Linked DNA regions of Homo sapiens: region 2 is linked to region 1. The links come from fine-mapping of genetic effects on gene expression. A gene starts in region 1. The other region holds a variant in brackets. All regions are shown on one strand. Distances are from middle to middle.

Evidence for each region.
Region 2: its variant is fine-mapped to the expression of DHX36 in ovary (GTEx, PIP 0.94).

The regions. Positions count from the first base shown.
Region 1 is chr3:154,323,191-154,325,690 of GRCh38, forward strand. DHX36 (DEAH-box helicase 36) reads right to left here and starts at 1,297. Exons shown (of 25, transcript NM_020865.3): 1 at 984-1,297. The coding sequence starts at 1,226. RefSeq lists an enhancer at 1,190-1,484.
Region 2 is chr3:154,259,000-154,262,036 of GRCh38, forward strand. No RefSeq gene overlaps it. Among named protein-coding and RNA genes, the nearest start is that of DHX36, 64 kb to the right of the region's middle. The variant C/CAT (reference allele first, on the strand shown) is at 1,650.

The sequences.
Region 1 (2,500 bases):
CGGAGGTGGTGGCGGACGCCTGTAATCCCAGCTACTCGGGAGGCTGAAGCAGGAGAATCGCTTGAACTTGGGAGGCGGAGGTTGCAGTGAGCTAAGATCGTGCCACTGCACTCCAGCCTGGGCGACAGAGTGAGACCCTGTCTTAAAAAAAAAAAAAGTTGCCTAAATGATGATCTAATTACACTCTATAATACATTTTATAAGGTGCTTTTAAAAAGTCACCAAAGGCCTATACTAAGAAAGTTCCTGCTTAATGATAAAAATTATTTTTTATTAGAATTTTATTTACTAGTCACTCGGAGAACTTTGTTTCCCTTACTACAGATCTTTAAGACACAAATCAACCTGACAATCACCTGAAGAGAGGAGAGTAAGCCAAATCATCTCTGGAGATTCCTTTCATTTTCCTTTTCAAAGAGAATCTGCTCATCAATAGAAATTTCTCCACCCCAACATAAAAAACAAAAACCTAGGTTTGCAGATAATTTTAACACTAATAATAAAAGCTGGACTATTTTTCTGAATGATCCACATCCAAAACAGTGTCTGCCTGCTTTTGTTCCGCGCAAACCTATCTCAAATGTAGAAAGGTCGCTATGTGCTTCTTCACCAGGCAAAGACCTTAAAGTGACAATTATTATTCTAAGGGAAAGGACGGCCAGAGATACGACAACGACACTCCTAATAAAGTTAATTTCGGTTGGAACGTGAACTTAACATTTGCTTTGTCACAGTTCTCAAGTCCTTTAAGCAAAGTATATATTCAGCCTGCATAAATCCTGCCTGTTTTTGGTCAGATGAGCATGGCTAATGTTACGCAGTACACCCGCTACGGGGAGCGCCAGCATAATATATTTGCGCCTCATTTACATTTCACAAAACACGTGCATCACTTAAGAAACAAAACCAAGAAAAAGGGGGCAGCGGGAGAGAGAAGAAAACCTGTGCTGCCTCATCCTCTCCACTACTGAATCCGAGATTACCTCTTGCCTCTCCGCTTCCTTGTTCTTCTGCCCCTGTTTTTTCGCGTACCACATGCCGATTTCGCGGCCTTTCAGGTGCCCGGGATGCCGGCCCCTGCCGCCTCGACCACCCCCTCCGCCGCCGCCGCCTCCTCCGGAGCCTCGGTTACCTCCATGACCCCCTGCTGGCCCCCCTCCATAGCCCCCACCGGAGCTGCGGGGACCCCCATCACGGCCCCAGTTCTGATGGTAGTCATAACTCATTGTCCTGGCAGACTACAACCCGTCAGAACCAGCAACCGCTGGAAATGGCGTCCGGGCCCGGAAGCCACTGTGCGCCCACTTCCGTTTTGCTTCCGTAGCACCGCACAAGAGGGCGGGCCATTTAGCGTCACAAGCAGTGGTTTCTGGTGACGTCACGGGAGGACGACCCCGGTGGTCTGGAGGGTGGCAGGGATCAGGTTCTGTCTGAGCCCCCGAGTTGTTTATCTTTGTACCTCTGGAGCAACAGCCAGCCAAAGGCTCGTAGATTTTCTTTCCCTAGGCCCAGCAAGTGAGCCAATAGCTTTTGGTTTTTACTTTCTTATTCCTGGTAAATCCGCAGTTTTTTTGCACTTAGGTCCTAGGGTAGTAAACGTTGATTGAAACAAAAGAACCCTTGGATCAATTCGCCGTCTTCTAAAGAAAAGTCTCTAAAAAATGAGTTCTTCTAGTCTTGAAAACAGCCTGACAACTATTCAAATATGTAATTTAAAATCCCCTTACCTCCTTGAAAGTGTTGTCACTATTTAGTACGTTTATCCAATAGTGTTAAGATGAGCGTGTCTACCCAAATTCGGTGCAGAGCTCTTAGGCAATGTAAATAAACTACTTTGAAGATTCATGTGTTCATATGAAGCCACATACTGTTTATTAACCAGCACACTGAGTGTTTTGTACAAGCTGTTCTTGAATAATCAAGTAATTGGGCCACACAGGCTTGGATGTACACCAGGAGATATCCAGCTCATGTTACAGTTAACTGATGTAAAGGTGCTGGGAATACTCACTGAACAAAGCAAGTATGGCATGAGCTTTTATTTGCCTACAGTCTTAAGGGAAAGACAAAGGCTATCTTTGTGCAGTGAATTAAGAAAGGGAAATGCTGTATGCCAGGAAGGGGTCTACAATACACCATTGTGGCCTAAAAATTATTTTGAGCAAAGACATTTGAGTTTCTGAAATCTACCTGTCTAAATGCAGAACCACACGGAGGAATTCAAATCAAGCTCCTCCCTGGGAGGGAAACCCAGGAAGACTGACTCTTATCACTGGAGGTTAGAAGCTGGCAACACACTTGAATAGACATTGTCACAAAGCTATCATATCTGGCATCTGTTTTAAGGTGTCATTTATTTTTACTAAAAGTCATTTGTTTTTTCCATACGTGCTGTTTTCCCCTTTCCTTCCCTTTATAAGATGGTAGATAAGTCAGAACTCTACCTCCCTGAATCACCTTTTTCTGTGAACTCTATTATGTATGTGGTTAAGTCTGTCTT
Region 2 (3,037 bases), 64 kb before region 1:
TCCCTGGAAGTAGCAGGATGCATCCTCCTATTTGCTCCATCCCCTATCTGAAATCGCTGATGCATTTTTCCTAGGCTTTGGCAAGTACCAGAGAGGCAGAGCTACTTGGTGGACTTGCAGTGCTAAAAAATAATCCAGGTCAGTGTTTAGTACCATTAATAACACTTCTCATGGATTTGGTCCCTAAAGGGCTTATTCTCCTGTGGGAGTATGAATCTGAAAGATCTAAAGGTTTGCTTTCTGAGTTTTCAGTATATTAAAGTCCTGGAAGAAGAAAACACATCCTGTCTCTGAAAGAAACCAGCATCATCAGAACTAAGACTTCTGTTACTTCTAAAAGCAAATTGTCAAAGTTTCAGTAAACACTAAGACATGGCATTGTGATCCAGAAAAAAACAAACACAGGGACTCTGTATACTAGAATCATTAGGTATAGACATTAAAGTACTTACCATTGCTGTTGATGGAGATAAAGCCATAACGGAACTACACAGCTGTGTAGTAGAAGAAAAAAACCTAGAAATTATGGAACCGCGTTTAATGCCAGATTAGGTAAGAGTTAAAAGAGATATTGGGGAACGGGAAGAGAGGCTAGAAGATTCTACCCATAAGGAAGCATGGAGAGAGGAGACCTGGAGAATGTAGGGATTTAACTGGAATCCCAGAGGAGAGTGGAGAGAGAAAGCAGCATTGGCAAGGGGCTGGACCTTTATAACCCTGCTCTGACCAGATATGAGAGGCAGGCTATCCCCAGGAAAAGAGAGTGGTCTTGGATAAGGTGGCTCCCTTCAGCTCAGGACAATTCCCATAGAGGGTTGATGGGTGAAGGCTGTCATCCAGTTGCATTCCCAGCACCTAAAGCAAAAAGTCCTTCAGTCCTGATGGGGGGTCAGGGCAGAACATCACAACGTTCACTAAATGGAGCTCTATCAATGTTACATAAAGTGGTCTTTAGGGTAAAAGGTATCACTAGGGATAAAGTGGGTGCCTACATAGTGATGAACGTTTCATCTAATCAGGAAGATGGAGTAACTTAAATATATATTCTAGCAATAACCTAGCATATTTAACTATATGGCCTCAACTAAATAAAGTTGGCAGAAATATAAGAAAAAATAATTAAAATCATAGCATGAGACTTCAACACATCTCTCAGTATTTGATAGGAAGAATAGATACAATCAGGAAAAGAATAGAAAATTTTAATGAAATAGTTTAACATAATGGGAATATATAGGACACTCTGCAAACAATTTCAGCATATACATACTTTTCAAGCACATAAAATATTTACAACATTTGGCTATTCCCTGGGCCATAAGGCAAATTCCAACAAATTTTAAAGAACTGAAGTTATGCAGAGTGAGTTCTTTGATGGCAACATAAGTAGGTCAGAAAACAAAAATTAAGAATTATCAATTTATTTGGAAAGTTAGGCCTTTCCAAATGCAAAATTATAAAATTCCTTGAAGATGACATAGGAGACAATCTAGGTGACCTCGGGTTTGGTAATGACTTTTTATCTACAACATAAAAAGTATGGTCCATGAAGAAAAAAAATTGGTAAGTTGAACTTTTACAGTAAAAACCTCAGTTCTGTGAAAGACACTGTTAGAATAAAAAGCCACAGACAGGAAATATTTGCAAAA[C/CAT]AAAGGATTGGCAATCAAAAACATACAGAAAACTTAAAACTCAACAGAAAAACAACCCAGTGTTCAAATTCAGGGGTGGCGGGGGGGGAACTAGGCAACTCACCAAAGATAACACAATTAGTAAATAAACATATGAAAAGATATCTAAGATCATACATGAGGGATGAATTTAAAGGAGATGCCACTATATTCATTAGAATAGCTGAAGTCTAAGACCCTGAAAATACCAAATACTGATGAGGATGTGGAGCAGCAGGAACTCTTACTCACTGCTGATGGAAATGCAAAAACAACTTGGGAAGACAGTTGGGCAGTTTCTTAGAGAAATACACACCTACCATATGATCCAACAATTACACTCCTTGGTATTTATCCAAATGAGTTGAAAATATGCCCACAGGAAAACCTGCACATAAATGTGTATAGCAGCTTTACTCATAATTGTCAAAACTTGAAAGCAACTAAGATGTCCTTCAATAGATGAATGGATAAACTGTTACATCTATACAATGGGATATTAATGAGCAATAAAAAAAAGTTATCAAGCCATAAAAAGACATGAAGTAACCTTAAATGCACATTGCCAGGTGAAAGAAGCCAATCTGAAAAGCCTACACACTTTATGACTCCAAATAAATGACATTCTGGAAAGGCAAACCACATAGAGTGGTTGCCTGGGACTCAGGGGTAGGGAGGGAAGAATAGGTAGAGCACAGAGGATTTTTTAGGGCAGTGAAAGTGTTCTCTGATACGGTGATAGTGGATACATATACATGTGTCAAAATGTACAACACAAAGAGTGAACCCTATGTAAACTACGGACTTTAATAATGAAGTATCAAAATTAGCTCATTAATTATAACAAATATAATCCATAATACAAGATGTTAATTTAAAAAAACTGGTGGGAGGGGGTAAAGGGGATTATGGGACCTCTGTACCTTTTGCTCAATTTTTCTGTAAACCTAAAACTGCTCTAAAAAGTGAAGTATTAATTTTTAAAAAAGAATTGCTGAAGAAAGTTTTTCAAAGTAAGGAAATAACAGAATGAAACTTGGAAGATGAGGAATGAAGAACAGAATGGGTAAACATTTGGGTAAATATAATAGGCTATCCTTGAGTTTTAAAAATGTGAGATGGCTGAAAGCAAAATTATATTATCTGACATGGTTGTCAATGTATGTAAAGGAATTATTTAAGAAAATAAATTATAAAGCAGTAAGCTAAATACCTAAGTGGCTGTAAAGTTCTTACATTTCACTAGAAGTGTCAAACTGTTGATACTAGTCAACTGATGTTATATATGTATACTGTAATCCACTGAGCAACAAAAAATGTATACGAAGTGATATATTTAAAAACACAATAGACAAGGCAAAACAGAACAG